Linked DNA regions of Homo sapiens: region 2 is linked to region 1. The links come from fine-mapping of genetic effects on gene expression. A gene starts in region 1. The other region holds a variant in brackets. All regions are shown on one strand. Distances are between the middles of the regions. Region 1 holds the start of KY (kyphoscoliosis peptidase). Region 2 has its middle 22 kb from the start of KY.

Region 1 (5,378 bases):
CACCTTCTAGCAGAGGAGTATCGGATGCAGGGCTGCTGACAGCTGGATGTGTCTAAGTGTTGAATTTGACAAAGGTGACAATACAACTATTTTGACTGTCCTTTGTCTTTCTGTATCCTGGAATTCCCACTCATTTTGATTAAAATAAAGTTTTGCTCAAGAATGGAGAAAGCCCCTGGTTTGTCAGCTACTAAGACAAGGATGCAGATTAATTATTTAGGTCGGAATACAGAGAGCCTTGCATCTTTTTTATTCAAGATGGTAGCAGGATGGAGGGGCTAGTATGGTGTGTTTGGGGTGTAGAGGACATGGTTTCTGTTGAAGCATGTGTGGGTTTGGTAGGGAAAAAGGAAGAGATGGGTCTGGAGATTTGCAGGCTGAGCGTTCTGTTATTTGTCCCGTTGATTGTGTGAGCAGCTGGAGGGAGGATTTGAGCAGAAGGGATACAGCCTCTACTTGAATGATATCCCAGCCACCTCAGTGTTCTCTTGTCTCTCCTTCCCCTTTCCTGATACATCCAAATGCCTTCAGCCACATCACCTTCCCCATGGTGTCTCCCTCTCAGCCCAAGAATGGATAGTGGGGAAGAGGGGAAGCAGCTAAGTCAACCCAGGCCAAGGATGGGAATAGAGTTGGCATTAAGAAGAGCATCTCATCTATGCTCCTGGCAGGCCCCAGAAGCTAGGCTGTTGGACTGATGGCCATGGGTAAACCTCTGAGAAGAGGGTCTAGGTGTCAGGCACCATCAGGATCCAGGGGCAGCAGCATCTCCCAGAGCAGTCGAGGTGACTCCAATTTCAGGAGTTTGCTCCAAAGCGGTGTTCACACTGCAATTCTTTCCAAAGGAAACATTGGTCAATGTCTGGAGACATTCTAAGTTCTCACAATAGGGAAGTGAATGTGATTGGCATCTAATGCGTAGAGGCCAGGGATGCTGCTAGACATCCCACAGTGTACAGGAAAGCCCCACCAAAGAGAATTATCTGGCTCAAAATGTCAATAGCGCCAAGGATGAGAGGCCCTGCTCCGAAGCTGTCTTCAGACATAGCAGAGAGACAGGAGGCCTCCACACCATTTCCCCAGACCCCTGGCAGCACATTCCCAGGTCAGAATATCCTTCTCCAGAGGCAGTTCTGGGAGGGGGCACCAGAGTTTGCGAGTTCCTAGCAATGACACTTTCCAGCAGGAGAGCAAGGGTTGGGAGATGGGAATGCAAGTGTAAGGAAAGGGGACTTCAGCTCCCCCCACCATCACCAACACTCAGACCCATCCGGCAACCAAGGGTGCTGTACACAGGCTTCTAGTTGATTTCAGCACTTCAGACAACCTGACACTTGAAGGAGTTAGACAACACTGACTGGCCCAGGGTAGTTGGGGGGACTCTGGGACCTGAGATCTGCCTCAGCAATCTCCAACACCCCAAGAGCTTTGCATAATGCATAGTTCTTACTTCCCCAGCCACATAGAGAGTAAGTGTTAGCCAGCCTCCCAGGTGTGCGCGCGCGCGTGTGTGTGTGTGTGTGTGTACCTGCACACATACAGACAGGACAAGACTCACTTTAGCAGAAGGAAACCTGCCTTGGAAGTCAGCCATCTCCACTTGCCTGTCTATGGCCTCAGCTCTCTAGGGACTCCAGTTCAACATTACTGGAAGCCAACAACCTCTCCTTCCATCAGATGCCCAGTGGGTGAGTCAGGGGGTGGGGTGGTGGGGGGGGGCGCTGGTAATGCAATAAGACAACAGCCTTTACACGGAACCAAACTCTGAGCCACTGTTATTGGAGGAAGACCTTCAGAATCTCAGAGTGTGGCTGTGACATCTCTCCTGCTTCTCTGCTCCATCAGTCACTTGTCACTCCATCTTTCCCTTTCCTCACCCTTAAAATGAAGTAAGAATGACAGCTACCATATGAAGACCACTTTCTATACACCAGGCGCCTTACATTCATGCCATTCTCACAACAGCCATGTGAGAAATTTTTATCAACCCAGTGATAAGGGTGAGAAGGTGGAGGGAAAATGGCTGGTCCAAGGTCACACAGCCAGGAAGTGATGGAGCTGGTACTGGAATGCAGTCTGTGTGACACAGGCTGCTCCAAGGAGGATCTGGGAACTCTCAGGACCATGCTACAAGGTGGGGTCCATACACTCCAATGCGGGGAGGGCTCCCAGAGCAAAGGCCTCCATGTGGGGGTGCATTTATTAACAGTAGAAACTCGAATTAGGGGAACGCCCCCAGCAGGGTGGGCCCGTAGTGCCCAGGGGTACCAGGCAGAAGCCTATGTAAACACTCCTGAGACCTACAGCCAAACCCCTGCTGCTGTTGGCTGGGCAGGCCAGGCCGGGCTAAAAATAGAAGGCTTCTCAGGTCCAGCTCCCTGTGCCCCAGCCTCCTCCTCTCCCCCTCCCTCCTTCCCCACAGGGCAGGAGCCAGGCTTCTAGAACGAACCGAGACTTTAAGACTTTCGTTTCAGATCAAAGAGGATCGTTAGCTTGATACTCAATGGGCATGTTCCAAGTTCTACAGGGGCCGTAACTGGGGGGAGCTCCTGACTCCAACACCCCACCCAACTCCCTCCTAGGGAGAGAGAGCTGTCAACCTCCAAAACCAACCCAGGGAAGGAGTGAGGTCGAGGCCAAAACTTGGACAATCTCTGCACATCTTGCAATTCAATCTGGAGCCCCTTTGCTGTCTTTCCTTTTCCTGAATCTACTCTCAATGTTGACAGCACTGTGCGATTTCTGTATTTGCCAGGGGCTTCTCGTGGGAGGTCGGCTCCAGCCCTCTCGAGAACCCTCCGGAGACCGTGGGGATGAGGCAGCGCTCAGCCAGAGAAGCCCTGGAGCCCAGGACCAGCGCTTCAAGTGCACCGGGCGGGAGGCAGGGGCGCAGGGAGGGAGGCTCTGGACCGGCCGCCCCTGCTGACTATGGCCCCGGTGCAGGTCAAGGCTTGGGCCCGGGGATTTCCTTTCAAAGGTGACTTAGAGCCGCTTCATTAGGGTAGCGCCCTCCCAGGCGGGCCCTAATGGCGTGTTTGGCAGAGTCAGCGAAAAGCAGCGCCCTGCGGCTCCAGCGGCGGGGGAGCGCCCTCTTCCGCGCCCTCGCCCTCTCCCGTGTGGGGCAGCTGCGCGCACGGGGCCATTTGCAGCGCAAGCAGCCTAGCGTGCGGCCGCGGCGCCCAGGTCGGAAAGGAGGCGGCATCATGGAGCTGAAGAAGGACATCAACGCTGTATCTATCGACATGCTGCTGATCGTGCACTCGGAGAAGCGGCGCGCCGCACAGGGTACGCTCTCAGACCAGCAGGCGAACCCGAGCTCGCTGCTGCAGCGCGGAGGAGGTAACGCGCGCCCGACCCGGGTCCCCGGGTCCCCCGGCACCTTGGCCTCCTTGCCACAAGGGCCTGCCCGCCGGGGGGCGCCCATTGCTCCCCCGAACGAGGTCAGCGAACCCGACCCTCTCCCCCATGGCTGCCGTCGCTTCCCCGCAGTGGCACCGGCGTCCCGTGGCAACGCGCAGTCCCGTGGCAACGCGCAGCCCCGTGATTGCCCCAGTTTCACTCCCTGTGCAGGCCTGTGGGTGCTTCCGTCACCCCTGGGAGTCTTTTTCCTCCCAGCCACTCCCTAACGGGTGTAGAGCAAGATTGGAAGATACCCTGGAGGAAGGCGGCCAGAGCCTCAGGGCTGACTCATGGGTAGCAGAGGCCTGCTCCCCCCCACAGCACACTGCAGGGCACAGGGGACGCTGGGAAACCTTTGGGCTGAGTCAGACTTTTAGATGGGGAGCTCCCTGTGTGGCCTTGCACAATTTACAGCCTCAGTTTCTCCTTTCTTGAGACTTTCTCCCAGCCTCCTATAGATGGAAGGCATGAAAGGCGTAAAAGGAACGCAGGTTTGGATAGGGTAAGATTTGAAACCTGCTGTCTCCACTTGAACTTATCCATCAATTTTACTTGTCCTACACACTTTCTGGGTAAATTTGTAAGTTGTAGATTGGTAAAATAAAGTGACTGTTTATAGAGTGATTGTGGAAAGCAGGATCCGGGCCTCTCTGTTCTCCAGACGACAGAACACAATGTGAATGGAGTACAGAGGGATGATAATGGAGGTTAAATAAGCCCCTGAAAAGCCAGAGAACCTCAGGGTCCTGGATGGCAAGCTGTCTCCGAGGCTGGTGTGAGGATGCACTAGGCGGACTGCGGGCCAGTTCTTTAGGAGTTAGGCCTGACAGCCCATGCAGGAGAATGACTTCTGCCTCTCTCCTCCCCTCCAGCTCTGGAGCTCCTTGGAATTCCTGCTGCTGCTCTGCCCTTGGTTCTTCTGTCCCCAGAGCCTCTGTGCTCATTGAACATCCACCTTCCACCTGCCTTGCTTAAGTAATGCTGCTGTGGATGGCCTTGCCACTACCAGCCACATAGGCTGGAGCTGCCTCCAGAGCCCTGGGAACCTCTTGGGAAGGCAGGCAGGGGAAAGAAACAGAATCTAGAGGGCTGAGTATGTTGACAGGCGCTCTAGTCTCAGGGCTGATTCCTGACTGAAGCAGGAGTTGTTTGGATTCGTTGGCTCTTTAGTTATCAGACCTACTCTTGGGAGAAGGGGAAATGGCCTGCCCAGGGTATTTGTAGTTAGAAAGTCAACAGAGGGCATCAACTTCTTGATAGAAATGAGACTGCTCTGAATACATGTACCACAGTCCAGAATGCCTTCTCCAGTGTGTGGCGAGGCCTAGTTCCAGGTCAGCCCACGAGTCCCCTACTCCCAATCCTCTCTGATCACATCACTTCTAAAGGCTCTGACACTAGAAAGGGCAAAGAATGCAGAGAAGCCCAGGAAACACCAGGCATCAGGACTGCCCTGAGAGGTGCCCAACACCTAGCACAAACTCGCCATGGCTCCAGACTCATGTATGCACACTAGTGACTATGACAGAGAAAAAAAGACCCCTAATGGCTGGGCCCTTTCTGCTGAACTTTTTCTCCAAATATTTTTCTGATGGCCGTTTCTCACCGATGCTATGAATGACAGTGTAGAGATCTGTGTCACTTATTCACAACCAGAGCAGAGAAGAGGAAAAGTGCATGGCTTTTGATGCCTGGTGGGCAGAGATGATATTCAGGAGACCCCAGGCAAAGCCAGCCTGCAGACCCTTTCCTCGAAAAACAGCCTAAGGGAGGAAAATGCCCAATAAGACCAGCTTGTTCCAAAGCCTCCCATGGGTGCAAGATATAAAACAAACTCTTGCTCACTTCCAGGTATCTCCTCCTTTCTCCTCCACACTCCAGATCCTCCACTGGAGAGTGGATCTTCCTTGGTTATATAAAAGAGGGCCTAGGCTCCATGTCAGAAAAGATCAAAGCTCAATTATTGTTGCAATGCAGAG
Region 2 (5,378 bases), 21 kb before region 1:
GACTCTTGATTCTATTCCATTTATCTATCTGTCTATTCATATGCCAGACTACACAGTATTGGTTACTGAAGTTTTGTGGTAAGTTTTGAACTGTAAAGTATGAGTTCTCCAATTGTGTTGTTTTTCATTGTTTTGGCTGTTCTGGGTCCCTTACATTTCCATATGAATTTTATGCTCAGCATTTTCCAGTTTCTACAATAAAAGGCAGCTGGTTTTGATTGGGATTGTGTTGAATCTGTAGATCAGTTTGGGGATCTTAATATGAAATCTTTCAATCCATGAATATAGAATGTTTTTCATTTTTAAAGGCCTTTTCTTTTGAAGATCTTTTGAAGTATCAAGCCTTGTACTTCTTCTGTTGAATATATTCTTAAGTATTTTATTCATTTTGATGCCATTGTGAATGGAACTACTTTCTTGATTTCATTCTTGGAATGTTCACTGCTAAGGTAAAGAAAAATGATTAATTTTTATATATTGATCTTGTTTCCTGCTACCTTATTAAACTCATTAGATTTAATGATTTTTCATGGATTCCTTGGGATTTTTATTATATAAGATCATATCATCTTCAATTAGTTCTGCTTCTTGCTTTCCAATTTGGATGCCTTTTGTTTCTTTTTCTTGTTTAATTTCCCTGAAAAGAACCTTCTTAAAGTAGCAATGGTAAGAGCAGATATGCATGTCCTGTTCCAAATGTTAGGGGGAAGGCTTTCAGTCTTTTACCATTAAGTTTATGTTGGCTGTGTGATATTCATGGATTTTTTTCATCAAATTAAAAAAGTTCCCTTATATTCCTAGTTTGTCGAGTGTTTTTAATATGAAATAATGTTAGATTTTGTCAAATGCTTTTTCCTAACAGTTAAGATGATCATGTGGTTTTTGTCCTTATTCTATTAATATGGTATATTTCAGTTGTTGCTTTTCTTATGTTGAGCCAACCTTGCATTCCTAGAATAAATCCCACTTCTTCATGATGTATTATCTTTTTATATGTTCCCAGATTTGGTTTGCCTATATTTTGTTGATGACAGACTCACTTCTTGACACTATGAGATGACTTTCTACAGCTGGAAGTTTGTGTTCTGTAGGAAAGACAGTACACCTCACCCCAACAGTACACTAAAAGTCAGGGTCAGGTTCTCATTGATCCAAATTGGTTCATGTGCACAACCACAAGCTAATCACTGTGTCCAATGGAATGAATTTTGCTGATTAGTTTAGACATGGACCTGGACATAGGATTAACCTCAGGAAAACCTGGGATCAGAGTAAGAGATGGTGGGCCCCCAAATAAACCTTGGGGCTCTGTTTTACCGGAAGAGTGATTGATAGACCACAGGTAGCAAAAATACGGGTGCTCACCACAGAATGTGGCCAATGAGCCCAGATTTGGGGTTGTCCTGCAGAAGGGAGAGAATGGTGTGCCTGTGCATAAGTCTGTAGGTGGTCTGCAGGAGTAGTAGGAGATGAGGTCATCTGCTGGTGGAGGGGATGGGGAAGGGATTAAATTGAGGACTCAGAAGGAAAGGGATGAAGGTTTCAGGTGTTCCAGAGAAGAATGGAGATGAGACAATCCAGGGTACACAAAAGGACAAAGGGCAGCACCAAGGGCCCAGCTGCTACTGGAGGTCCTGACCCTCAGGGCGGGCCATGTTCTGTTCTCCAGGCTGGCTGCCACACTGAGCCAGGGTTGATGTTTTGTCAGGCGTGTGTGGCAGAAGGAGGGATATGAGAGAATCCTGGGAGGTAGTGAGAGAGCCATTTTGATGGACCACTGAAGGCACCACGCATTGCAGGGAAGGAAGAGAGGCCAAAAGGAGCTGATGGCCAGGGAGGAGGGTGGGACTTCAGGACTGGAGGTCTCCAGGAAGTCCAATGGCTTCTATATGAGGCCATGAGACAGTTGGAGGGGGGACGTCAGGTTGTGGTTGGAGAAGATCTCAGAGAGGAGGTAGTTCTAGGACAGGATGAGTGAAAAGCACTGGAGTTAACAGAGGTCAGGGGTTCTGGGACGAGGTTCTTGATGGATGGTGGTATCTCCTTAATGATTACAGTCTTTAGGTATGAACAAAGGCACAAAATTTACTCCTGAAGACCTGATGAAGAGTAAAAGAGAATGTGATCCACCTCATTCAGGGCAGTTGAATCCTGGAGTTTTCACGGAGGGGTGGAAGTACTATGAAGGGTGGGAGAGCTCAGGCTTGATGCTAAGACCACCCATGCAGGGCCTTACAGGTCCTACCAAGGATTGGAGCTTCATCCTATAAGTAAAGGGAAACTATTGAAACAACGTAAGCCAGGACATGACATGATTAGAGCTGCATTGCTAAACACTCACTCTGCTGTGCTGTGGAGCGAGATGGGGAGGGAGCTACCACATGGTCCAGGCAATGGTTGATGGAGGCTTGGGCTGGGGCAAGGGGCCAGGTATCCAACACATAATTGGAGCTGAAGCCAGAAGACAGAATGAGTACGTAGAGAGCCAGGACAGAAGGGACCAACAGTAAGAGGAAGACAAGAGCCAGCATGGAGAGAAGGCAAGGGAGAGATTGGGAAGAGAAGCCATTTATGACGAAACTGGGAGCCCCCGGAATGAGAGTGTTCAAGAAAGAGGTGCAAAATCAGCTGCCTTTTGCCAGATTTCTGATTATTTGCCTTTCCCCCTTTTTCAGAGGCATAATTATAAAAGCTACAGAATATCTAATTAGGAAGAAAATAAACCAGAATCATGACAATTTTGAATTTAGCAACCATATTCTCCTTGGCCTTATTTTCAAGTCATAAATATCACTGAATCTAAGCTAGCAAAATGTTTCTTGGTAGTTGTTTTTAGGCTCAGACCCAGAAGTAACAATGGTCACAATAACCAGTTAACATTTTCTGACAGCTTACTAAGTGCTGAGGTCTGTGCTAAGCACTTTATATGTGAAATCTCATTTATTCCTCAGAATAACCTAACGAGGCAGATGCTACTATTATTACTCATTTTTAGCTGCAAGAAAAAACTCAGAGAGGTGACACATGAACACATGGCAGTGACTGGGTGATAGTATGAATTCAATCTGACTCTGGTGGCCAATGATATAATCAGTGTACCCCATTTTTTACAGATGGGGTTTGGCGGTCCTTGGAGAGGTAGGAGAGTCATTTTTGAAA[T/C]TGGTTTCAACACTCCACCCTACACACTTGTTGAGGTATTACTTGACAACCATCTATCACTGCAGGTTTCTGGAGGACAGCTCTGGCCAGCCCAGGTCCTCACCCTCACTGTGTGTGACTCACTGCTCCCCACCTACATCCACACACATTGCCTCCCTTGGCTCACAGCAACCCATTTCACAGATGAGAAAACAGCTCAGTTGGTGGACATCGCCACCAACTAAAATGTCCCAAAAGCCATGAGAGTCAGGGCAAGGGCTCAAACCCTTTTTCTGATTTTTCATTCATTCAGGCCACCCCCACCACTCTGCCACCCCTGTGTAGAAAGCATTTGTTCACTGTACCCAGCAGCAGACACTCCTGCAGCTTTTTGTTTAAACACTTCCTTAAAAGCAGGACTCTGGATTTTCCTATGTCTTTGCACATTTATTATTTTCCTTATGAAATGTTTCAAGCATACAGAAAAGTACAGTTGGTAATATCACAAATACCCACATGCTCGCCACTGGAAGTGAACAAAGGTCAACATTTTTCTTCTATGTTTGCTTCAGATTTTCTTTTAATTTTATTTCATTTTAGATAAGGCATACATGTGCACATTTGTTACATGGGTATATTGCAGTACTGGTGGGGATTGAACTTCTAATGCACCCATTACCCAAATAATGAACATCGTACCCAATAGGTGATCATTCAACCCTCAGCCCGCTTCCACCCTGCCCTCTTTTGGAGGCCCCAGTGTCTATTGTTCCCCTCTTTATGTCCATGTGTGCCATTGTTTAGCTCCCACTTATAAGTGAGAATATGCAGTATTTGCTTTTCTGTTTCTGAGTTAGATCGCGTAGGATAATGGACTCCAGCTGCATCCATGTTGCTGCAAAGGACATGATTTCATTCTTTTTTATGGCTGTGTAGTCAGATCTTTTTTAAAAAGTAAATATGACACATGTATTGATGATCTCTATGAATCCCTCTCCAATGCCTTCTTCTCCCTTCCGCCCCAGAGGAAACACTATTCTGAAGTTGTGGTGCATTCTATTCATTTTTTAGACTTTTACCACAAATGTATGTATCTGTAGACAATATATATTGTTTTGCATGTTTTAAAACTATAGCTAAATGATGTCATACTATAATATCCTTCTAACTGTAGTTAATTCATTCAGTTTTGTGTTGTAGATGTTCATCCACACGTTTCCATGTAGATCTAGTGCATTGTAACTGCTCTACAGTATACAGTATGGGAGGACTCCATGATTTATACAATACCTCCTGCCATAGACATTTCCCCATTTTTAAGCTTTATGAACTCTGCTGTGATAAGCAACCATGTACATGATCTGACCTGGTTCATGAGGTATACACTTTTCAGTTTTATCAGATGTTGCCAAATAGCTCTCCAAAATTACGGTAACAGTTTATATTCAGTTTCTAAGTAGTCCATTCATCCACAGCCAGCCATGGTGTCATCAGACTTCACTGTCCTGCTAATGTGAGAGTTAGGAATTTACCATTTATTCTCAACAGCATCATCTCTTGTTCCATGGCTGGCTGACTCCATAAGGAACTTCCTTGCAATGATGGGACACTGCCTTATTTTCTCCATTGATCCCCACTCTGTTCTCTTCACACTGGAGGCTCTGACTATGACCATCTAAGATTCCCCCAGAGCATTTCCTCAAGTGTTTTCATCAAATCAGGGACCCCCATAGCTAGCAACTCTTTTTTTAACAAAATTTAAATTTTATATGCAAAGGGACTGTGTGTGGTTTGGGGAAGAGTGTGTTCATATTGGAGGCAAATAGCTTGTAAAACTTTCTGTGAAAATAGCTCAGAGAGCCTCAAAAATCATATTTGATTTGGATTATTATCTTAATTTAGGCTGCTATAGTAAATTATTATTGATCGGCATATAAACAACAGAAATTTATTTCTCATAGTTCTAGAGGCTGAAAGTCTGAGATCAGGGTCCCAGCATGGTGGGGTTCTGATGAGGGCCCTCTTCCAGGTTGCTGTAGACTTTTCACCATAACCTCTCATTGCAGAAAGGGCAAGGGAGCTCTCAGGGTCTCTTTTAAAAGGGCACTAATCCCATTCAGAAGGGCTCTGTCCTTATGACCCAATCACTTCCCAAAGGCTCCATCTCCAAATATCATCACATTGGGGATTAGGTTTCAACATATGAATTTTGAGGGGATATAAACATTCAGTCTATAGCA

Evidence for each region. PIP is the estimated chance that this variant, and not a neighbour inherited with it, causes the effect. A credible set is the group of variants that fine-mapping cannot tell apart.
Region 2: its variant is the best candidate, but not a certain one, in a credible set for the expression of KY in spinal cord (GTEx, PIP 0.54).

The regions. Positions count from the first base shown.
Region 1 is chr3:134,648,786-134,654,163 of GRCh38, reverse strand. KY (kyphoscoliosis peptidase) reads left to right here and starts at 3,142. Exons shown (of 11, transcript NM_178554.6): 1 at 3,142-3,339. The coding sequence starts at 3,204. It also overlaps a transcript of CEP63 not described here.
Region 2 is chr3:134,669,840-134,675,217 of GRCh38, reverse strand. It overlaps a transcript of CEP63 not described here. Among named protein-coding and RNA genes, the nearest start is that of KY, 22 kb to the right of the region's middle. The variant T/C (reference allele first, on the strand shown) is at 3,160.